Linked DNA regions of Homo sapiens: all the other regions are linked to region 2. Evidence: fine-mapped expression QTL. A gene starts in region 2. Each other region holds a variant in brackets. All regions are shown on one strand. Distances are between the middles of the regions.

Region 1 (8,229 bases), 140 kb after region 2:
AGAATCGTTTGAACCCGGGAGGTGGAGGTTGCAGTGAGCCGAGATCGTGCCATTGTACTCCAACCTGGGCGACAGGGCGAGACTCCATCTCAAAAAAAAAGAAAAAAAAGACTGGGTGTTGATCAATGAATAGTGTTCATCATGTAGATAATTGGAGAAATTTCATTTTGGGCAGAGGGAATATACTGTTCAAAAGCAGAAAAGAGTGAAACAGGCACCTCTGGGAAACTCCATGTAATGGGACTGCCAAAATACAGGCTCTGTTGAGGGGTGTCAGCAAGAGATAACATAGGTAAAGGTACAATCATGGAGGACTATGCTTTTCTTCTAAAGAGCCTAGACAATATTAACAATGGGGAGTGGAGAGTCACTGAAAATTTCAAGAAAAAGACTAGCATGGTCAAGCAATACAGAAGTTGTAAAGCCAGTGGGTTGGAGGTGATAAGCTTATAGGCAGGGAAATCTGTTAGATTGATTGCTTTCAAACTTCTGATCGCATCAAGAGGAATACAGAGATGTGAGCTCATGCATTTAAAAAGGTGTCACACAACACTTAAATATTTACCCATGTTATATAGAACACTTTCTGACATTTTCTGTTTTATTTTTTCAAAGCTGGTTGTAACCCACTAAATCATTCTCACCATTTACGAATGACTTGCAGCCTGTAATTTAAAAAGGAAGCGATTAGAGTTTAGGCAGAAGATGATAAAGATCTAAATCATGAGGAGGAGGAGTGGGGGTGGCAGGGAGAGAACAGATTTCGGAGTTGTTTCAGAAGTAGAATAAAGAGGAATTGGTAACCACTTAGCTATAGTTGATAAGTTTAAGTTGACCCACAGGTACCTCACTGAGTGACTGGAGTCATTAAATGGGATATATAGCAGGAACTGAAAACCAAAGTACCATACCACATCTTGGCTGCAGATGTAATGTTTGATTGATGTGATGTTTAATTTACATTAAATGCCTTTAGGCAGGCGTGTACTTTGCCACAAGCCCCATCACTTTTTATTATCTTATACTAGATGACTTTATTTATGGTGTCTTTACCCCTGGAATCTAGGAGAAATGACTGATCATGGTGACAGTGAGTTCAGTTTGTGATATGTTGCCTGAGAGGTACTCATGGAATATCCCACTGAAGCTCTTCAGGAAGTTGATTATAAGGAACTGTGGCTCAGAAGAGAGATTTGGTGCTCATTAGTTTATTGATAATAATGAAAGCTGTGACAGTAGATAGAATCTCCCAGGACAGTAAGAAGAGGAGGAAAATAGTAGGTGATAGATAGAAATCTCTCTGGGAAGCACCTGCACTTAAGATGCAGGCAGAAGAGAATGAAGCCAACAAAGGAAGCAGAGAAAGAATAATCAGAAATAGTAAAATTAAGAGAGTGGTATCTTGGAAGAATATTGATCAGACTTTTTTTTAAAGAGAAGACAGGAGCCAGCAGTATTGTGTAAAGAGGTTAGTGAAATGAATATATTGAATATGGCAAATAGTAGAACTTTGACTGTTGACAGAAAAGTTTCAGTGCAGTGGTGAGGGTGGAAGTCTGATTTCAGGGAGTTTATGGTGTGACCCAGAGGCTAGGGATTGAGGGTAGTGAATGTAAACTTTTCTTTCCTGAAGCTTGGCATTGCAAAGGAATGTTAGGGGACTAAAAAGGAATGAAAAGATGAGACGGTTGTTCTCAAGGACTAAGAAGAGTCTATGCTTCAGATTCCACAGACTAAATTTGTAAATGATAATCCCTACATATTATGTAACTTAGAGATGTCATTTTCACGCATTTCTTTCATATAATCTGTCAGAGGATGAGTTTAGCTATATGGATGGGAGATTTGAGGTAAGATGAAGCAGGAGGAAGTTTTTTAAAGGATCTGCAACTGTGAGATAAAATTTAACTGTTCAGAATGGAAGAATTTTCCCTCTGAATAGAGACAGTAATGCTCTAATTTCAATAAGCTCACTTTCCCTCTACCTCTGATATTGATGCCCTCTGCTTCTTAAACGGGTAGCTCAGGGATCCAGGGAAGGTGAATCCCTGGGGTGGTGTCCTCTTCTGGCAATGTGGCCTTTCTTTGTGAGTCCTCCAGTAATCAGGTATTAAAGACCTTATGTTCCTTGGTCTCAGGCAACTAGACAGCCTGAAGGCCAGCAGCATAGGGGATTTGAGAGCTGAGGCTTATCTTTAGCTTCCAGTTTTCATTCATCAGGCCTAAATGTCACTATTCAAATCTAAAATCTAACATGTGCTCAGAGCTGATTTTGGCTTCTTCACCATTCCAGGTAAAACATTTGATGACTTTTCTAGGTTTATCCCTTCTGGTCATAAATTTTTTCCCGAAATCTTGGAATACCGTTGTTCATTTGTATGGTATATAGAATGAAGTAGAATGGATTTTATCTGTTTATTTATTTAAAGCTTCTTAATGGTGTTTAAATCTGTACTTCATTTACCATCTTTGTTTCTATCTGTTTACAATTACACTTTCCAACCTATTGTTTTATTTCTGTCTTCATTTAAGGGTAGTTCATTTTGATTCCTAATGATGACATTTATTTCATATGTCTTCAGGGCGTGGTATGTATGTACTCATAAAAAAGAAAAGTGTTTATGAATTATCTTCATTAGGCTTATAGCTTCACATCCTATTAGCAAGCCCTCTTTTGATTACTATTTTGAATATACAGTTGTTTTTCTATTAAATAACCATACTGCATTCTTCATTGTAGATCCGACTGAAGAACCAGCACCACAGGCCACCAATACAGTTGGTTCTGTTATTGGCGTAATTGTCACCATTTTTGTGTCTGGAACTGTATACTTTATCTGCCAGAGGATGTTGTGTCCACGTATGAAGGGAGATGGGGAAACTATGACTAATGACTATGTAGTTCATGGACCAGCTTCTGTGCCTCTTGGTTATGTGCCACACCCAAGTTCTTTGTCAGGATCTCTTCCAGGTGAGTCAGGATGGATCCATTGAGAATCAAGTCTTTGGTCCTGCAAGACTGCCAGTTTCCATTGTGGAAAAGAATACTACCTAGAGTCTGTCTGAAACCATATTACTCTGAGTTTAAACAATTATAAGGACAAACGTTCTTTTTTACTATTAGCACCTTCTCTTTACACAGAAGGCCTTAGATATGGTTTGGTAGAAATTGTCAAAGCATATAAAGCAAATACATATGCAAGCTCTAAGCCTCTCTGACTGCAATTCTGGATGCATGCTACGGAAGGTGAATCAGCCAGTCATTTAGTGAAAGAGTTGTAAACCACAGGTTAAGTTCACCACCAGGGAACTCTAGTACTATGGAGCCCATGAATAAAAGGAGGCCAAAAATTATATAAGATTCCCTTCAGCCAACAAAGATTTGTAAATAGCTGGATGATAGAAGGGAGAATATGTCTTAAGTTTTCTCCTGACTTCATGTGCTAATAAGGGACAAAGGGCTAGTTTAGGCATAGCTGAGTAGCCAGAAGTTTTAAGCTTGGGTAGGCCGTGTTGCTCTAGGGAACTGGCCTTCTTTTTAATGTTTTCTGGTGCCCTTAGTTAAAAGACGCCTTCCTTTTAATGAATATGGAGAAGGCGGTGCCTTGCAAAAACCCTCTGAAAATAGGAACTTACTATGGGTGTAACTCTTAAGTAGACAAACATGGTTTTTAAACTGTTAATGGTAGTGTTGCTTTGTTGCCATACCTATTTTCAGTTAGTGGAATTTGGGAAGCTTCTTGGAAAAAATAGAATTTTTTCTTTAGCACTGGTAGTTTTGATTCTAGCAACATTTATATTCATTAGATGAAAAAATATTCTTTCATATGTTGTTTGTGCCCTAAAAATGTTTTTTTGTTTTCTTTTGAGCAAGTCTGGTATTTAATATGCCCTGCCTCACAACCTCTACCCTTTACAATCCTTTCAAATCCTCCAAGAGGTTGAAAAGCCCTTATTTTAAATAGCTCTGCTTCTACCAGGGGAGGGAGAAGGTGGGAGCTATTCTTGGCCTTGTTCTAGGCCAGCTCTTTCAATGGAAGCATTGACTTCTAGAAAACGTTCATTTCCTTTCTCCATTAAATGTTTTCAATTATAGGAAAAGAGTGTAAGTTATTTTAAAATCAGACTACTTCACTGTTGATATTTGTAATCCTACTGTTGAATGAAATTGCTTGATACATTTTTATATATCATACTCATCTTCAGTTTTTAACCTCCTTTTATTTTAGGAATGTCTCGAGGTAAATCAATGATCAGCTCCCTCAGTATCATGGGGGGAAGCAGTGGACCCCCCTATGACCGAGCCCATGTTACAGGAGCATCATCAAGTAGTTCTTCAAGCACCAAAGGCACTTACTTCCCTGCAGTAAGTAGTCTGTTTTCCTTTGAATGCGACATACATAAGATCTTAGATTTTTTAACTCATTTAAATGTGGGTGATCAGTGATAGTAATGTAAAAGTAGTTTTTGAATGTAAAATTTAGGCATAAAAGGCTCAAAGGACTTACCACACACCACCATCCATGCTTATAAATCTTTTAAGTTACTGTGTAGTAACCAGAATACTTGAAAGCACTGGGCATTAATTTCACATTTCAAGTAAAAGTAGAACTACTGAATGGTACCTATTGAGGGATTAGGGCCTTCATTTTATGACTTCCCAAAAGAGGAAGCACACCTGGAATTTCTCCTAAATCAATAATTTTTCTCTAAATACTTACTATTTTAAATAACCAGGACCTAAATGTACTGACCAATGATTTTTAGGTTACAGATTTTCGTTTTTGTCACTTTGCACTTTTTAGCCATGATGAGGTCTTAGGGAATGAGGAAGCCATAGTCCCAAAGTACTGTTTGAGGTCAATTCTTTGGAAAAGAAGAATTGTGCTAATAGTGTATTGTAAAGAAACACTAATAGAGATGAAGGAAGAAAAGTTGAAAGAAAGTCTGATAGTTTCTATGTTGTTATTTTAATATTTTAATTATTTTTTTCTTTTAGATTTTGAACCCTCCACCATCCCCAGCCACAGAGCGATCACATTACACTATGGAATTTGGATATTCTTCAAACAGTCCTTCCACTCATAGGTCATACAGGTAATACACATCCTTCTCTAAAATAAGGTGCAGTATTTATTGAAAGTGTTTCAGTTGTGGACCTGATATAGCCCCAAATGAGTAGACGATGGTCACCAGAGAGAGACTAGTCATCTTATCTTGATAGTACTGACATTGCCTCTACCACAAATCCTTTCCTTTCAGGACGTTATACTTTTTTTTTAATTTTTTGAGATGGATTTCGCTCTTGTTGCCCAGGCTGGAGTGTAATGGCATGATCTCAGCTCACTGCAACCTCCGCCTCCCAGGTTCAAGCGATTCTCCTGCCTCAGCCTCTCAAATAGCTGGGATTACAGACCTGCGCTACCACGCCCAGCTAATTTTGTATTTTTAGTAGAAACGTGGTTTCACCATGTTGGCCAGGCTGGTCTCGAACTCCTGATCTCAGGTGATCCGCCTGCCTTGGCCTCCCAAAGTGCTGGGATTACAGGTGTGAGCCACCACACCTGGCCTATACTTTTTTTTTTTTTTAAGAGAGTCACAAATGCTGGCTTTTATAATAATAAAATACAGCCTCAGGCTTTGGCAGTATTCTAAGGAGGAATTACCCACCAAAGTGACTGGTTTCAAAATAGTTTGATATTCTAAGAATGAAATATTGGGATAAGATTGGTTCATAGAATTGAGAGTTTAAAACAGCAACATACTCAGAGCACAGAATTTTAGAAAAGTTGAGAGAAATGTAAGTTCAGCCATTGCTTGCATATGCTATTACAATTTGGAGTGAAAGATTTCTCATGTAGTTGCATGGAATAAAGAAAGATTGAAATAAATAAAGTGTATTTGTAAGCCAAAAAAGAGAAAATTATTCCTTTTTGCTAATTTATGAGTCTATAAAGTGTGTTGAGCAGGTCAAGTACTGTTGTGTCAGCTTCCACTTCTATGTTCCTTGAAAGGCCAACAGACCATCAGTAGCTTGAGAGTTTCTATCTACACACTGAAGTGCCCAGGGTTCATGGGCATCCCTCAAGTGCCTGTTATCTTCTAGATAATCTTTTCTATCTTCTATCCTCTCTAGATAATCTTCTATTATCTTTCCTAGCATTTCAGTCAAATTGGCCTGATACGACCTCACCCATGTGTAGAAATGAAGTGGAAA[C/T]CACTTAAAGTATCTCACTCAGAATTCTCATTTCAGCTTAGATAAGACTGAAATAGCCTTGGCTGTGAACTGATTGTTTTAATGATATGTTGTAATGTTGCTTTCCCTGCCACAAGTTTCTTCTTCTAGGAAGCCAAAACAGAAAAAGCAGAAGCCTGAAAATTGAGAAAGGAGAAAGATACAAAATTTTATTTTTTAAAAGTAATGTCCTTAATTCAAATTGACTAAGGCACTCATCAGAATAAACACGATTGCATAAAAAACTATTCTTGCTTAACTATTTTCCGTATAAGCCCAATTTCTGTTTCCTCTGAGTCAAAACTTACATCATTTGTTGAGATTTTGGTTTAAACTGGGACATGAAAAAATTTTATTAATTCAGTTTGTTTTCTTTTTTTTTTTTCATGAAAATAGAAGTATTTGGACTTTTAAATGTTGACCTTAGAAATTTCACCAAGGATTGACACCTGATTGGACAAAGAGTTAAACAAAACAAACTGTGACATCATGTCAGTATTGATAGTAAAAGCCTTTGAGAACTCACTCAGTGGGTCATATAACTTTTGGTCTCTGGCAGCCTTGCACCCTTTTTATTTTTATTTTTATTTTTTTTGAGACAGGGTCTTGCTCTGTCACCCAGGCTGGAGTGCAGGGGCACAATCACAGCTTACTGCAGTCTCCACCTCCCGGGCTCAAGCAGTCCTCCTGCTTCAGCCACCCAAGTAGCTGGGACTACAGGTGTGTGTCACCACGCCTGGCTAGCTTTTTTTTATTTTTTGTAGAGACGGGGTCTTGCTATGGTGCCCAGGCTGGTTTCTTTCTTTCTTTCTTTTTTAAAGACTAATCAAATGCAGTAGTAAGAAGGGGAGACAGAGTAGAACAAGGAATTTGATCTGTGACTGTGAACAATCTGGCAGCCATTTCTTTTGAAGCAAGCCAAGTGATATCAAATGGTTTGTATCCTGGGTTCCTGGGATATATTACCTGGTGGTGCTCTGTATCACTAGGTGTTTTATGAATCGTTGTATCAGTTTTTAACTTGGTTTTCCCCTTCTCTTGTAGTCACTTTGATGAGAAAGCTTATGAAAAAATCTTTGGGATAAATTTAAGATCAGCTTTACCATATTTAGAATAAACAGGTATAAGAAGTTAAAAATAGAAGTAGGAATGACAGAAAAGCCAGAACTTAGGTCAGATCTTATTTTCACTAGTATGTTTCTCTCTTTCCAATGCCTTTTTCTTTAGTTAGCAGTGCTACAAACCTAACAACTGTATGTCACTTGTAAAGATAAACAAGTGTAAGAAATAAACTAGGCCTCTGAAATATACATTAGAAAATTCACTGACCCTTTATGGGCATTTAAATTTTATCATTTTGATGTTTAAAGCTGCTCTTATGAGAGGTACTTACCTATACACAGGGAATGAAAACCGTTTCCCCCAATCACAGCAATTTCCCTTTGCTAAGATAACAACAATGGAATAGTTATGCCCCTGAGGCTGTCTACCAAAATCCAGCCTGGACTGTACAGAAATTGTACAGAATTGTACAGAAGAAAGAAATGAAGACTTCAGATGTCATTAAATTAATTATTCATCAGGTTAATTTTGGAGTAAAGAATGTTGAGGGAATGCTGACATGTTTGAGTAGTGTAAAATATGTAAAAACCCATTCTTCCCATGGGCTATGAAACTGCAGAACAAATTTGAATAGTCATTTTTTATTCTGTGATACAGTTTAACTTGAAGATGTAAGAGCACAACCAGAGGCTAGATTGAATTCACCTCTGCATTCCCATCCTGTTCATTTTCACTTGCCACTTTCTTATTTGCAAATAAGAAAGTACCTGCTATTTTCCTCAGCGAATCTGCCATTGAAAATTGCCTCTTGGTCTGTGTAAATTTAAATTGCAGTAGCTTATTGTTTTCATAGGGTAGTTGACATCTAATACCTCTATTCTGAGAGGGGAAATCATTTTTTTTTGTAAAACTAACTGCTTCTCTTTATTTTC
Region 2 (8,441 bases):
GAGCCACCGCGCCCGGCCTCCACCTGGATGTTTCATAGACACCTCCAATACAAAAGAGCCATTGTTAAACTTATTACCCACTCCTTCTTGAAATACTTCTTAGGTTTTCTTTTCTTTGTAAAGGAGACTCCCATTACTCTCTGTTTCTCTCTCAATTCACAACTAAAAGTCCTGTTTTAATCTCGTATTCTTTAAATCCATGATGTCTTTTCAGTCCTCAGCGCTGCTGTCCTGATTGCCCCTTTCATAGACTTCTGTACAATGTGCAAAATTCTTCAATGTCCGCATTGTTAATATGCTAAAATCTAAACTTCTTAGCATGGCTTGAAAAGGTTTTTATTAATCAATAGCTATTTAATGGTCCTGCCTCAATTCCTGACATTCTCTAAAAGCATTCCATGCATCAGCTATATGAATCTACTTTCAAATCCCCAACATACTAAGTTCTCTAATGATTCAGTGTCTTTAAACCTACTATTGTGATTGAAATTTTTTTTCAGTCTTGTTGGCCTGGCAAAGTCTGATTTGTATTTCCAACCTCAGCGCTAGGGTTATTTTCCCTTCTTTTGTTTTGTTTTGTTTTGTTTTTTTGAGACAGAGTTTCACTCTGTTGCCCAGTCTGGAGTTCAGGGGCGCAATCTCGGCTCACTGCAACCTTCGCCTCCTGGGTTCAAGTGATTCCTGTGCCTCAGCCTCGTGAGTAGCTGGGATTAAAGTTGTGAGCCACTGCGCCTGGCCCTTTTTTCCCTTCTTTGAATTGTCTAGGCAGAAAAGCATCTCTACACTTAGCAATTTTGTCTTTTTTTTTTTTTTAGTTGGAGACAGGGTCTCACTGTATTGCCCAGGCTGGAGTGCAGTGGCAAGATCACAGCTCACTGCAGCATTGGCCTCCTAGGCTCAAGTGATCCTCCAACCTTAGCCTCCCGAATAGCTAGGACTCCAGGTACACGCCACCATGTCTAGCTAATTTTTGTATTTTTTGTAGAGATGGGGTTTCGCCATGTTGCCCAGGCTGGTCTCGAGCTCCTGGGCTCAAGTGATCTGCCCACTTTGACTTCCCAAAGTGCTGGGATTACAGTTGTATGCCACTGTGCCCTGCAGATTTTAATATTTTAATTACTCACTTTATTAATCAGTGTTTCCAAACTAGGCTGTAAGCTTCTTGAGGGTAGGGACTATGATTACTCTCATCTTTATATCCCCAACACTTAACAGAGTGATTGGTATCTGATTGGCACTTAAAAGAATGAGAAACAAAATTAGTTATGCAGTAATAATGGCATTCTCTCTAGGGCTTAAGCTTAACCTATAGATTTTCACTTAAGCATCTTTTAAAAATTTGTAGTAAATATATAGTACATTAAACAAAATTGAAGAACAGAAAAGCAAACTACATCTCATATTATTTCACCATCCTAATGCCTATTTTAGTGCACTTACTTTTGGTCTTTGCTCAAATATGTGCTATATATATGTGTGTGCATTTATGTTTGTATATTATATATATTTTTATTTTACATAGCTATAATCAAATGTACATGCACTTTCACTTTTTAAAAGCTTAACTCGGCCGGGCGCGGTGGCTTACGCCTGTAATCCCAGCCCTTTGGGAGGCCAAGGAGAGCGGATCACTTGAGGTCGGTAGTTCGAGACCAGCCTGACCAACATGGAGAAAGCCCGTCTCTACTAAAGATACAAAATTAGCTGGGTGTGGTGGCGCATGCCTGTAATCCCAGCTACTCAGGAGGATGAGGCAGGACAATCACTTGAACCTGGGAGGAGGAAGTTGTGGTGAGCCGGGATTGTGCCATTTTACTCCAGTCCAGGCAGCAAGAGCACAACTCCGTCTCAAAAAAAAAAAAAAAAAAAAAAAAAGCTTAACTCACTATAAACATTCAACACTGTTGCATAATCCTCTAAATTATTATTTTTCAGCAGTGTGTAATATCTCATTCCCCTACTTAGGTTGATAGTCTGAGGAGATTTAGGTTGTACCGCATTTTCTTTTTTATTTTATTTTATTTTTTTCGAGACGGAGTCTCGCTCTTTCGCCCAGGCTGGACTGCAGTGGCGCTATCTAGGCTCACTGCAAGCTCCGCCTCCCGGGTTCACGCCATTCTCCTGCTTCAGCCTCCTGAGTAGCTGGGATTACAGGCGCCCGCCACCGCGCCCGGCTAATTTTTTGTATTTTTAGTAGAGACGGGGTTTCACCGTGTTAGCCAAGATGGTCTCGATCTCCTGACCTCGTGATCCGCCTGCCTCGGCCTCCCAAAGTGCTGGGATTACAGCCGTGAGCCACCGTGCCCGGCCAGTTGTACCGCATTTTCTATTATAAATAGGGACAGATCCAGGCTTTGTGGGACTTGAAGCTTATACAATTTTGTATAATACAATTATACAGAAGAGGAATTCAAAATTATCTTTGTTTTGCAAATAGGACCATGTGAACATACCATAAAGGCCCCTCCCCAGACATTGGAAGGGGCCTGTGAAAGTGAAGGTTAACTTTCTTTTCTTTTTTTTTTTTTTTCTGAGACGCAATCTTGCTCTGTTGCCCAGGCTGGAGTGTAATGACGCGATATCGGCTCACTGCAACCTGCGCCTCCTGGATTCAAGCCATTCTCCTGCCTCTGCCTCCTGAGCAGCTGGGATGACAGGCGTGTGCCACCATGCCCGGCTAATTTTTTTTGTATTTTTAGTAGAGACGGGGGTTTCACCATGTTGGACCAGGCTGGTCTCGAACTCCTGACCTCGTGATCTGTCCGCCTCGGCCTCCCAAAGTGCTGGGATTACAGGCCTGAGCCACCCGCCCCCGGCCCAGTTTCCTGCTTTGAGGAAGCCAGAATACAAAACTCACTTGGTTCTTAGAAGCAGGTCATTTAAATAAACGGTGACTAGACCTCAGGTGAATTTGGGAGAAAGTGATTTGGCTGTTTCTGCTGTCCATCTACTTACAAACCTGCAGCACCTTTGGTTCAGCGCGCATTTCTTGGAAGGAGCGGAGTGGCTTAAGTCAGAGACCTGGATTGGGCTGAGGTACTGCTATTCATTACTTGAGTGGCCCTGGGTAAGTCATTAACCTCTCAGGTTCTCATTTTGCTCCTCTGTGCAATAAAGAATAAGTAACAAAACCTGCCTTTCCCCAGGGTAGTTTTGAGTGTCAAATATGATAACTTGTGTTCAAGCACTAGTGAACTCCAATGTCACTGAGGTACTTGTTAACATTGTGGTAGCAGCTCCACTTTCTTGCCCATCTGCCTCCAGGTAAGGGCGTGTGACAGCTGGGCAGGATGCATCTGATGGCTCCATTAGGGTTAACTGTTGGAGCGCCTCTGCCCAGACGAAAGCCTGGCAGGTGATTTCAGGGGGCGTCTGGGCCATTACTCCTGAATGCCCAATGCACTGGGAGTAGCAGAGGCTGTGCACAGTCTGAGATTCTAGGGAATCTTTTCCTTCTCAAGCTGAGAATTGATAATCGAAGCATGCCAAACATTCGTTATTATATGCAACTTGTAAAATCCTAAATAGTCTTGTCCAATTGTCCCTTTGCTCTTAGGTTTTGAGGCATTTATCTTGGAATTTTATCTGCCAGTTTAGAAATCTTTAGCTGGTCGGGCTTAATTCTGGGGGCAGTTTGTATTTCTGGGAAGGCGGGAGAAAAATGACAATCTCAGTTTTGAATTGGCGTTTTAATATCGTTCACCAGATCCACGCTGAAAGCCGGTGTAAACAGCGTTCAAAAATTCCGCCCTCCCAAAAAAAGGATGCTGAAACCGATTTCCAACCCCGAAGACGGAGCTCATCACCCCGCAACGGGATCCGCCGTGGCTCCCCGCGCGTGCACCGCGGCTGGGCAGTCTCAGGTGGCTGGGGGCGCGAGACCGGAGCCCCACCTGGCCCTGCCGGCGGCGGCCGCACAAAGAGCGGGGCAGACGGCTGCCCGGCCGAGCCGCAGAAAGTAGTCCCGACCACGCCGGCTCCAATGTTGTTCAACGCCGCCTCACGCCCTCCGCGGGGAGGGCCGAAGCGGCCGGTCCGGGAAAGAATCCCGCTGGAATGCGCCACCGGGAGGAGGCTTTCCCTCCCAGTTCGCCTCTGCTAGCCCAGAACCTCTCCCAGGGTCTCAGGCAGAGGCTGTGCGTGCGGTTGCCGACTCCCTTCCCTGGCCGTACAGGAGGCAGTACCGGGAGAAGGGGCTCGTTGCGCGCAGGGACACGGTCGCGGCGACCCTAGGAGGCGGTGCCGACCGTATCCCTGCGCCGCTGCGCGAGGCAGAGGCTGAATGAGGAGCTGCGCGGGGGAAGCGGGGCGCCGGGGGAGGAGGCGGCGGGATGGAAGCAGACGCTGGCGTCGCGCGAGCCCGGGGCCGAGCGGCGCGGTAGAGAGGGCGGCGGCGGCGCGCGCGGAACCTTGACGTGCCCCTTTCTTTCTTCTCTCGCTGGGAAGCTGGGAAGTATGAGCGTGCAGCCCTGCCGCTGCGGCGGCCGCCCCGGCTCCTCGCCTCCCCCACTTCTGGCCACCCCTCGCCGGTGAGAGAAGAGAACGCGAGAAGGGAAGATGGGGGCCGTCCTGAGGAGCCTCCTGGCCTGCAGCTTCTGTGTGCTCCTGAGAGGTGGGAAGAGTGGGGGCACTGGAAAGTTGGTGGGGTTCGGGGGGAGGTGGCCTTGTTGTATGTGTCTAGGGGGAGGGGAGGGACGGAGGAAGGGAGAAGGGGAGAGGAGCGGGGAGAGGCCTGGTCGTGGGGAGGGGGAGAGAAAGGGGCCCGGGAGCAGGGGCTGCGTGCACCGCCCGGCCACAATGCGGACCTGGCCTGGCTTCCCAGACCTTCCCCGGACACATCGGAGCTTCGATCCCGGCTGCTGGTCTTAGGGAACCCTTGGCACCCCATGCTGTCGGGATGACTGAGTGTCTGTGTGCCTCTCTCTGCCTGGGGTCTTCCAGGGAAAAGGGTCTTTGTACGTATTTTGGCTTTTAAAATGTTTGAGTCCGAGATGCTTTAAGGTTGGCCTTATCCATCGAAGCCCCGCCACCCACTCCCCACCCCGTTTCGGTGTTTCTTAGGTGAACTTTTAAAGCCCTCTTGCTATTTTTTCCAGGCCTTGTTACAGGTAATGATTGGCTTCCGTTTGGGATATAATGACCCTGGGTGAGAGCGCAGTTGGAAAGTGACTCCGGGGTTATAGGTCGAGCGTTTCAGCATTGGGAGCCTTCTGAGCTTCAGCCCATAATAAAATAAAACATTGCCCTTGTAACCTCTGGTATTCACGGCTTGCCCCTATTTTCGGAGTATGCAAGTGTACAGTTGGCACTAAGTAGGGAAATTCATCCTCGTGTGAAGAGGAGCCGGTCCTGGGACCAAAATGATAATTTGCTCTGCACCCCTGGGGACTGCTTGGCACTTTGGTAAATTGCATAGGCTGTTCGAGATAATTTGCTCTGGGAATCGCTTGAATTCGATGGCACTATGATGTTTTGAATTGGACTGCAAAGCTGACACATGCTCTGTGACTTTTGTGACAGTTCACAAAGATTTTTGACTGGCCCGTCGGCAGCTCTTCTCAAACTATTTAGTGTTGAACTTGAGATGGCTGTGATGGCTGTGGAGCATTTACCAGCAGAGGAATTTAAGTACTGCTCGATACGGTGGCTTGTAGTTTTGGTTTGGTAAAGTTCTTACTGGCGTTCATAGTAAGTTCTTTTCAGGCATGTGACCGCTGGTCGCTGGAGATTTTTAGGTGTTAACAAGCTAAACTTTTGTTAAGTTCTCCAAACTAATTTAAGTTTACAGAACACTAATAGTAACTAATAGTCTGTGACAGGTGTATATTTTTGCGTGTACTGTGTATATGTATTTCGGATGAGAATGATTGAGTTTTTTTTTGGAGGAGGAGAAATACTTTCTTCAGTTACTCTGTAGTAATGCAGCATTGTGTTTGCATGTTATATTACTTGATACTCTAAGCATATTACAAAGTTTTCCCACATGTAAACCCCGGAAAGGTAGTGTTCATTAGATTTTTGTGGCAGAAATTTTAATGAAGTGTTACGTACTGGAGAGGTTTCATAAGTATATACTTATTTTATTATTGGCATACTCTATTGAAAGGGGTTTTGCTGTAGCTGTTAGAAACAACTATATTTGACATAAGAATATGTATGTATTTTAAGACATAAGGTTAATAGGGCTGACAAATATGAGAACCAGCTGATTGGTTAGAGTCGTGGGAAAACTTATAACTTGGGATGTTTCTGGTTGTCTAGTTGTATTTCTTGGAGGAGAAGCGTGTGATGTAAATGCCGTTTGTTTAACACCAGCTTTGAGACCAGAGCTGGGTTTGTTCATTATTGGAATTTAGATAGGTTGCACTTATTTATGTAACAAGACCTGGAAGAGGTAATAGTTTAAATTGTCTCGTTTCCACTAGCAAAGTTTTCAGAAGTGGAGCTCTCGTTTTAAATGTGGCGAAATATGGTGTAAGGTGGTCTTCTAATATGTAACAGTACTGTACTTAGCTGTGAGTACATATTATTTGAAGTAAAACTGTCTTTTGATGTAAAATATTTTTGTTCATAATTTAGAATTAATTCATTCTTTGAGAATGTCATCCTCTGTTATAGTAAAGATATTTAGTCAACCTTGGACTCCAAGGAGAAAAATCTGATTGATTTGTTGCATTTAGGTCATTTTTTTCCCCCACAAAGAATTGGGGCTTTAACATTGGCTGGGTGTGATGGGGTATGTGAGAGTCTGGGAGACCTTCTGTCCTGTAGCCCTGTTGAATTAGTAGCAGAAAGCCAGGGAATACTGTTAGTGCTGTGTCCCTATCTCTATCATCACATGACAAGGTATAAAGGAAAGATTTGGGAATTTCAATACTAAAATCTTGGATTTAAAGCCCAAGTGTCACAACTTCATAACTTTGTGGTTCTGGTCTAGTCCGCTTCTCTAGGTCTCAGTTTCTTTACTGGTAGTGTGGATAATGATACCTGACTAGTTTGCAGGGTTATTGGGTGTTTTAAATGAAATAATATGGAGTACCTTGTTAATGTTACTTTTTGCTATAATTTTTGCTTGTTCAGGGACATATCCTCAAATGCTTTCATGATTTGAGATTTAATTTGTATAACGTTCACAATTTTTTTTTTTTTAAAGAGACAAAGTCTTGCTTCATCACTCAGTCTGGGGTGCAGTGGTGTAATCACAGCTCATTGCAGTCTCAAAGTCTTGGGCTTAAGTGATCCTCCTGCTTCATCCTCCCAAAGCTCTGAACTATAGGCACGTGCCACTATGCCCCCAATTTTTTGTAGATATGGGGTTGGTGTGGGGGTGTCTTGATATGTTGCCCAGGCTGGTCTCCAACTCCTGGCCTCAAGTGATCCTCTCAAAGTGCTGGGATTACAGGTTACAGGTGTGAGCCACCATGCTTGGCCAGGTTCACGAATTCCTATTTTTTTTTTGGAGGTAGGGTCTTGCTCTGTTGCCTAGGCTGGAGTGCAGTGGCATGATCGCTGCTCACTGCAGCCTGGACCTCCTGTGTTCATGTGATCTTCCCACCTCAGCCTCCCAAGTAGCTGGGACCACAGTTGTGTGCCATAACACTTGGCTAATTTTTATAGAGCCAGAGTTTTGCTATGTTGCCCAGGATGGTCTTAAACTCCTGGGCTCAAGTGATCCTCCCACCTCCGCCTCTCGGAGTTCTGGGATTACAGGTGCAGATTCACACATTCTTTTTTTTTTTTTTGAGACGGATTCTTGCTCTGTTGCCCAGGCTGGAGTGCATTGGTGTGATCTCCGCTCACTGCAAGCTCTGCCTGCCGGGTTCACGCCTTTCTCCTGCCTCAGCCTCCTGAGTAGCTGGGACTCATTTTTTTGTATTTTTTAGTAGAGACGGGGTTTCACTGTGTTAGCCAGGATGGTCTCCATCTCCTGACCTCGTGATCCGCCCACCTCGGCCTCCCAAAGTCCTGGAATTACAGGCGTGAGCCACCACGCCCGGCCAGATTCACACATTCTTTTTTTTTTTTTAAAGACAGAGTTTCGCTCTTGTTGCTCAGGCTAGAGTGCAATGGCATGATCTCGGCTCACTGCAACCTCCGCCTCCCGGGTTCAAGCGATACTCCTACCTCAACCTCCTGAGTAGCTGGAATTACAGGCATGCACCACCATGCCCAGCTAATTTTTTTTTTTTTTTTGTATTTTTAGTAGAGATGGGGTTTCTCCTTGTTGGTCAGGCTGGTCTCGAACTCCCGACCTCAGGTGATCTGCCCATCTCGGCCTCCCAAAGTGCTGGGATTACAGGTGTGAGCCACCACGCCTGGCCCAGATTCACACATTCTTAAAAGTGAAAGGGATCTTGGTCGTTTGAGCCTCACCAGTTTATTTGTAAGTGGGGAAACTCAGATTCAGAGATACTGTAATTTAATAAAGGTAGGTTAATTAA
Region 3 (8,441 bases), 54 kb before region 2:
CCACAAAAGAAAGTACTTACACTATGCGCCAGATTCACTTTTACATATACTAACTCATTTCAATTCCACAACAACCTTTTGAATAATTTTAATCCTTATTCTGTAGATAAGGAAACTGAGACACAGCGAAGTTTAAGGGCCTTTCCAGAGGTCACTTGCCCAGATAGCCTGGCTCCGGAGTTGCCACTTTTTACATTCTTATAACTGGAATGATACACGGTGTAACCAAAAAGAGGTTTGCACTAGATTGGAAATGTTCTAGAAAGCTTTTTGTTGTTGTTTTTGTTGTTGTTGTTTGAGACAATTTTGCTTTGTCACCCAGGCTGGAGTGTAGTGGCGCAAACACAGCTTACTGCAGCCTCCAACTCTCGGGCTCAAGTAATCCTCCTGCCTCAGCCCCCCAAGTAGCTGGGACTACAGGCATGTGCCACCACGCCCAGCTAATTTTTGTATTTTTGTAGATACAGGGTTTTGCCATGTTGGCCAGGCTGGTCTCAAACCCCTGGACTCAAGCAATCTGCCCATTTCAGCCTTCTGAAGTGCTGGGATTACAGGCATGAGCCACCATGCCTGGCCCTAAATAGCTTTTATTTTTATTTATTTATTTAGAGACAGAGTTTTCTCTTGTCGCCCAGGCTGGAGTGCAATGGCATGATCTTGGCTCATTGCAACCTCTGCTCCTGGGTTCAAGCGATTCTCCTGCCTCAGCCTCCTGAGTAGCTGGGATTATGGGTGTGCACTACCATGGCCAGCTAATTTTGTATTTTTAGTAAAGGAGATGGGGTTTCACCATGTTGGCCAGGCTGGTCTTGAACTCCAGACCTCAGGTGATCTGCCCGCCTCAGCCTCCCAAAGTGTCGAGATTACAGGCATAAGCCTGCCCCTAGATAGCTTTTTATTTTGGTTTTTAGACGGCATCTTGCTCTGTCACCCAGGCTGGAGTGCAGTGGCACGATCTCAGCTCACTGCAACCTCTGCCTCCCGGGTTCAAGCAATTCTCCTGCCTCAGACTCCCAAGTAGCTGGGATTACAGGCACCCACCACCACACCCAGCTAATTTTTTAATTTTTTTGTAGAGATGGGGTTTCACCATGTTGGCCAGGCTGGTCTTGAACTCCTGACCTCAAGTGATCCACCCGCCTCGGCCTCCCAAAGTGCTGGGATTACAGGTGTGAGCCACTACACCCAGCCTAGATAGCTTTTAAATGGTGTTGAGCCGAATGATACCTTGAGCCGAAAGCATGGAAATGAAGAGGTCAGTGGTCTCATTCTGGAGTGGGCTTCATACACTTTCCCAGTTGCTGATCACCTGTACCAAAGTTAAGAGTGACTCCTCAGGGACACGCCGGAGCAGAGAACCCATCCTGTTTCCGTGTCCTGTCATCTGGGTTAATAGTACCGCCAGCCACCCAGTATCTCCTGTATTGAGCAACTTCAAAGTCATACTCTGTTTCTCCTGCTGCCTCAGCCTCCACATCCAATGTCTACCAAATATTACCTATTGTCTTTCAAAGACGCCTCTCAAAGTCAGCCGTCCCCACTGCTGCCTCCTGTTTGGTCTCCCTAACTTGCTTCTCCTTGCTCTGCTCCCACATCATATATTCCCTCCTTACGACTTCAAGTTACATTAAAAGCACAGCACACAGTACATGTAACTCCACGCATGACACTCTGTGCTCCCAGTACCTCTAGGGATGATTACCAGTTGCACGTGGCAGGTGTACCAAGGCTCCCCATGCACTAGCCCCAACCTAACCACACTGCAGCTACCTCTGTCCCGTGAAACCTGGGCTGTAGCTACACCACCCTTTTCAACATTTCTCAGTATTGCCAGACACTTTGACGAGCCATCCTCTTCCCTCTACTTGTAAATTCCTTTCCCCCTTGTTCACTTGGCAAATTTCCGCTCATCCTTCAAGACCACGATCACACGTCACCTCCACCAGAGTCTCCCCACACTCTCCCGGGAGACGTATCAATTCCTCCTGGGTTTCTGACACAGCTCGTGATTTATACCATTAGTGAAACACTTCCATGGAATCATAATGTATCAGGTTATATATTACCCCACTAGACTGGGATACGTTAGACAGCAACATTTCTCTGATTCCATCATGCTTAACAGTGTGTCTGGCACATAGGCATTCAATAAGTGATCATGAGTGAATTTTATAACCCGTTCATTGAAGGTCATTTCTTTCAGCAATGGGCAGTAATGTGATTTGGCTGCATACAGAACAGCTTCTATATCATGCAGTGAAAGTGAACGCACTGACGTGCATTTTGTAGCAGAATGGGATAAAATCCAGGTACACAGTAATGAAGTGTATACTCTCACTTCAACTAAGACCGTGTGCAGAGGGATGGGTAGATAAGTATTTGATTTTGTTTATTTCTCTCCTTTGGGTTCAGATAGTATAGTTTCCTTAGCCTATAGAGAGGATGAGCTGACAGAATGTGCTTTTGTTTGTGTTCTTATATTTTTGATTATTTTCCCTTTCTTTCTTTCCTTCTTTCCCTTGCTTTCTCTCCCTTCCTTCCTTCCTTCCTTTCTCCCTTCCCTCCCCTCCCTCCCCCCTCCCCTCCCATCCCGCTCCCCTCCCCCTCCTCTCCCCTCCCATCCCCCTCCCTTCCCCTCCCCCTCCCCTCCCCCTCCCCTCCCCTCCCCCTCCCCTCCCCCTCCCCTCCTCCTCCCTCCCTTCCTTTCTTTCTCCCTCCCCTCCCTCCCCCCTCCCCTCCCCCTCTCCTCCCCTCCCCCCTCCCCCCCCTCCTCCCCTCCCCCTCCCCTCCCCTCCCCCTCTCCTCCCCTCCCCCTCCCTTCTCCCTTCCCCTTCCCCTCCCCTCCCCTCCCCCTCCCTCCCTCCCTCCCTCCCTTCCTTTCTTTCATCACTCTGTTGTGCAGGCTGGAGTGCAGTGGCATGACAGCTCACTGCAGCCTCCACCTCCCCGGACCCAGGTGTCTCAAAAAACAAACAAACAAAAACCACAAAACACTAAATTCTGTAATTCTGATTTTATGCAAATACTGTGTATCAAGGGTCCACAGAATTACCTAAGCAATGTTATATTTGTTTTCACCTTTTTTACACGGATAATTGGTCTTCCCAGCAATATTTTAAATGACTGGAATATTAGCACTTCACTTACATTTTTTTTATCTGTTAGTCATTTATTGTTTTCCCCCTGTAGCTACAGCTCATGCCCATCTTTTTTTCCTCATCTAGTCCTAATTACAGTGCTATAAAGGATGAGAAAAACAGCTGAAAGCTGAAGGATCTGCCCAACCTGGTCTTCCGCCTCTCCATCCTGGCTTTTTTGCTGTGAGAAGTCCTACTGGCCCGTGCATTGTCTTGGTGATCAATGAACTAACATCTGTTAGTTTTAACATATCTAGACTCCCAACACTCTAAGGTTTTTCGTCTTTCTTTTCTTGGGACAAAAGGAAACCCAAATGCAGCCAGACAGGAATAGTCAAAGTTAGGAGTGGTGAGATCTCTCGGAGGTCAGGCCTCTACTGCCCCTTATCCCATTCATTCTCTACTCTATCTAGAACCACCCTCAACTTCTCAGGCCCTGAGACCTGCATCCCTCCAGCATCCCCTCTGCCTTCCAAGGCATGGCTTCCAGGAGAATGGGGAGATGGATGGGATGTGCAGGCTGTGTTTGAGGGGCCCATCTCCTTGAAGACTTCGCCTGTTCTCATAATCCCTGAAAGCCTGCTTCACTCACATCATCAGAGGAGAAAAGGAAACCTTCACCAACTGTGTTAGTCAGGGTTCTCTTAGAGGGACAGAACTAATATAAATAGATATATATATATATCCTATGATAGATAGATAGATAGATAGATAGATAGACAGACAGACAGATAGACAGACAGACATAAGGGGAGTTTATTAAGTATTAACCTCCACAATCACAAGGTCCCACAATAGGCTGTCTGCAAGCTGAGGAGCAAGGAGATCCAGTCCAAGTCCCAAAACTGAAGAACCTGGAGTCCGACGTTTGAGGGCAGGAAGCATCCAGCATGGGAGAAAGATGTAGGCTGGGAGGCTAGGCCAGTCTCTCTCCTTTTCGTGTTTTTCTGCCTGCCTTATATTCACTGGCAGCTGATTACATTGTGCCCACCAGATGAAGGGTGGATCTGCCTTCCCCAGCCCACTGACTCCAATATTAATCTCTTTTGGCAATAGCCACGCAGACACACCCAGGATTCATACTTTGTATCCCTCAATCCAATCAAGTTGACACTCAGTATTAACCATCACACCAACTATCACAACACTCACCTGACTACATACATTTTTAGGCCTTTAATGCAGATGGATCCATTTTCATAAGCTGAAGAAGATAAAAAGATGGAAGGCAGAGGTGGGAGGATCACTTAAGGCCAGGAGTTCAAGGCCAGCCCGAGCAACCTAGCAAGACCCTGTCTCTAAATAAATTTTTTTTTAAAGAAGAAAGGTGAAAGGATAATATAGAAGAAATAGTATTTGAAGCCAATGCATAAGTTTCTAAGTGAGTGAAGGTGAGTAGGTGAAAGACAGGATTCCAGAGATTGGGCAGATGAACCATTAGCAAACAATTGAATGTTATTGTCTTTTTGTGTTTTTTTTTGTTGTTGTTTGTTTGTTTTTCTCTTTTAGAGACAGAGTATTGCTCTGTTGCCCAGGCCAGAGGCAGTGCTATGATCAGAGCTCAATGCTGCCGTGACCTCCTGGGTTCAAGTGATCCTCCTGCCTCAGCCTCCCAAGTAGCTGGGACTACAGGTATGCATCACCATGCCTAGTTAATTTTTTAAATTTTTTGTAGAGACAGGGTTTCGCTATGTCGCCCAGGCTGGTCTCAAACTCCTGGCCACAAGCGATCCTCCCACCTCAGCCTCCCAAAGTGCTGGGATTACAGGCATGAGCCACCGTGCTTGGCCTCATTGTTTAATATTTAATGAAAGTATACATGGTGCTAAATTTATTTAGCCTCAGTCAGTGACCCCTAACAAACCACTAAGGCATTCCATGCCAGGCTGACCAGGTACAGTGGCACACAAGCCAAATGCTACTGCCACACAGCCTCCTTTTTAAATGTCCCAGAGTAGAGAGGAATAGGGACAGCTGCATTTTTGCAGCCAGCAAGGAGCTCCAGAGAGATCCTTTCCCAGCAGCCCCTGCCTTCCAGACAGGCGTTCT[T/C]ATGCTCCAGTTATGTTCTGCAAATCTCAGCTTTTTTCATGTCCTCATCAGTCAACATCATCAGCAAGCTTTGCGGGGAGAAAGCCAAAAAAGTTCTTATCTTTAAAAACAAAAAAAAAAGAAAGGAAAGTCTTGCATTAGACGGACTTTGTCCAGCGCTGTTGCACCCGCCCTCCCTTCCTTCCACTCATACCTAACTTTGAAAACTGTCCCCAGGCATAATAAAATCCCCCTGGCTGGATTTACGACCTTCCAAGCTGCAGTGGAGAGGAAAAAGGCCCAACTCTGAGAAAAACAAGTATCCAGGGAGGACGGTGTGTGCTGAATTTTAAAATGTTAAATTACGGTGAAAAATTTGCTGGAAAAGAAACTATCTTTCAAATTGTGCTACATAGTAAAGTTAATAGAGCCCATATGTCCTCTACTAAAATTTAGAAAAACAAACTAAAAACAATACTTTCGCGCCTGCCAGGCTGAAATGTGATCTACTTCTTAATATTCACCCAACACAGGGTAAAATGCTTTAAGATGGTAATGATTCCAAAGCGCAGCTCAAGCTCAGTGGATAAACAACAGACCTCAAACCCTGGGGGGCTCATGTTCTCATCATAGCTCTGGGCAAGTCACTTAATCTCATGGTTCCTTCTCAATTTTCTCAGCTCTGAAACGGGGATGGCAGCACTTCACGAGGTGTTTATGAGGCATACTAAGATGGTTGTAAAACATTTTACAAATGTTTAATAACTGATGCCCTTTTCATAATTTGGCTTTATAACATCTTTCATTATTCATTCAGTGGTGTGGAAATAAATGAGTACAGGGGCTATTTACTCAGAGCTTGCTATGCTATGGGAGTCAGCTTCCATCACTTTGGCAGAAGGTCAAAGCAGGCAGAGGAGTGAGAGAATTTACAGTGACAAAAAGGGAAGGCTTCAGGTTTATCTGGATTGGAGCTTATTGGCACGAGGAAGTGGGAGATGGACTGCTTAGAAGCAGGGCAGGCTGGGTGCGGTGGCTCACGCCTGTAATCCCAGCAATTTGGGAGGCTGAGGTGGGAAGCTCACAAGGTCAGGAGTTCAAGGCCAGCCTGGCCAACATAGGGAAACCTCGTCTCTGCTAAAAATATAAATAAATAAATAAATAAGCCGGGCATGGTGGTGCGTGCCTGTAGTCCCAGCTGCTAGGGAGGCTGAGGCAGGAGAATTGCTTTAATCTGGGAGGCAGAGGTTGCAGTGAGCCAAGATCGCACCACTGCACTCCAGCCTGGGTGACAAAGCGAAACTCTGTCTCAAAAAAAAAAAAAAAAAAAAAATGAAGCAGGGCATCTTCGGTGATTAGTCTGGGGAGCATCTTTGGCTTTCTCTGGTCGGTGCTGAGTTGGAAGCCAAGTGGTTTGGCTTCCCCAGCTGGTTGCTACAAAGTTTGTGAGACTCAGTTCTATTCCCCATGGTCTGGCCATTGTTCACTGTTGGTATATTCATCCGTGAAAAATTAAAGATAGGAGGGTTCTGACTACCCCAGGAGAAAACCAGGTGCCTGCCTAGCAGCCTAGGGAGTAATTTATATTTCTTATACCTTTTAAATACTTTTAGAAGAAGCAAATTTAGAAGATAGACTGCTGAACCAACAATTTTCACTCTCTTGAGTCACTGGGCACAACGAGCTAGCAATCAGGACAATTGAGTTCCAGACATGAGTCTATTATAAGATGGGCAAAAGGGAGGTGGGAAGACTGACAAGTCACATAACCTCTCAGGGCCTCAGTTTCCTTGTGAACAGCCTGCGAGTTCCTATCTGTCTACCCTATTGCATTGTTTGGTTTTGAGGATAAGTGGCCTAATAGTTTGTAAAAGGACCCTATAAAGCAGATTTTTTTTTTTTTTGAAATAGAGTCTTGCTCTGTCGCCCAGGCTGGAGTGCAGTGGTGCAATCTTGGCTCACTGCAACCTCTGCCTCCTGGATTCTAGCGATTCTCGTGCTTCAGGATCCCGAGTAGCTAGAATTACAGGTTCACGCCACCACGCCTGGCTTATTTTTGTATTTTTAGTAGAGACTGGGTTTCACTGTGTTGGCCAGGCTGGTCTTGAACTACTGGCCTCAAGCGATCCGCCTGCCTTGGCCTCCCAAAGTGCTGAGATTACAGGCGTTAGCCACTGCATCTGGCCCCGGCTAATTTTTGTATTTTTAGTAGAGACGGGGTTTTGCCATCTTGGCCAGGCTGGTCTCGAACACCTGACCTTGTGATCCATCTGCCTCGGCCTCCCAAAGTGCTGGGATTACGGGCGTGAGCCACCACACTTGGTCCCTATAAAGCAGATAGTTTAAACCCTATAAAACAGGTATTTTAGAAGTGTGCTATGGAAGAATGTGGCATAAGCCTTTGAAGATCCACCTAGTGGACTGGAGTCTTGAAAATGCCCACGTGTCCTGTAGGAGGAATGCCAGACTCTTACAGACTCACCCTCTTTCCCATCTCTGTCTCCACCAAGGCCCACCCCTGCCCACTCCCCTGCTCCTCTGTTTTCAGTCTCTGTGAATGGAATCACCAGAAACGGGAATTTCTTTGGGCCTCTGCAGGAAACTAGCATACTTGACTTCAACCTCTCGTTAATTCCTCTGTTTATTCAAAAATAATGGGTTCCTTATTGCTATTTTAACATGAAGTAATAAATATTTTTTTAATTTCTTATTTTAAATTTCTAATATAGTGAATACTGATAGCTGTAACCAACATAAACAAAATCTCTTTAGGTCTTCAACAATAGTTGAGAATGAAAAAGGGCCGGGCAGCACTTTGAGAGGCCGAGGTGGTCAGATCACCTGAGACCAGCCTGGCCAAGAATGGCAAAACCCTGTCTCTACTAAAAATATGAAAATTAGCCCGCCATGGTGGCGGGCACCTGTAATCTCAGCTACTTGGGAGGCTGAGGCGCAAGAATGGCGTGAACCCGGAAGGTGGAGATTGCAGTGAGCTGAGATCGTGTCATTGCACTCCAGCCTGGGCAATAGAGCAAGATTCAGTCTCAAAAAAAAGAAAAGAAAAAAAAACAAGACTCAGTCTCAAAAAAAAAGAAAAAAAAGAAAAAACACATAAGAATGTAAAGGGTCCTAAAACTAAAACTTCATTAGCCACTGCTTTAGATACTCTTACCCTTTATCTCAGTGATTCTACTGCTAGGATTCTATTTTAAGGCCATAGAATTCCACATAGAAATGAACGCACAGTATGCTCGTTGCAGCACAATTATCAGTAGA

The links. PIP is the estimated chance that this variant, and not a neighbour inherited with it, causes the effect. A credible set is the group of variants that fine-mapping cannot tell apart.
Region 1: its variant is the best candidate, but not a certain one, in a credible set for the expression of LRP6 in spleen (GTEx, PIP 0.64).
Region 3: its variant is the best candidate, but not a certain one, in a credible set for the expression of LRP6 in whole blood (INTERVAL, PIP 0.68).

What each region holds. Positions count from the first base shown.
Region 1 is chr12:12,121,433-12,129,661 of GRCh38, reverse strand. It overlaps LRP6 (LDL receptor related protein 6), which reads left to right. Exons shown (of 23, transcript NM_002336.3): 20 at 2,741-2,971; 21 at 4,230-4,366; 22 at 5,000-5,097. Among named protein-coding and RNA genes, the nearest start is that of MIR1244-4, 14 kb to the right of the region's middle. The variant C/T (reference allele first, on the strand shown) is at 6,218.
Region 2 is chr12:12,262,852-12,271,292 of GRCh38, reverse strand. LRP6 (LDL receptor related protein 6) reads left to right here and starts at 4,249. Exons shown (of 23, transcript NM_002336.3): 1 at 4,249-4,612. The coding sequence starts at 4,558. RefSeq lists enhancers at 4,019-4,068, 3,606-4,242, 7,419-7,919 and a silencer at 4,249-4,558.
Region 3 is chr12:12,317,338-12,325,778 of GRCh38, reverse strand. No RefSeq gene overlaps it. Among named protein-coding and RNA genes, the nearest start is that of MANSC1, 29 kb to the left of the region's middle. RefSeq lists an enhancer at 1-472. The variant T/C (reference allele first, on the strand shown) is at 5,187.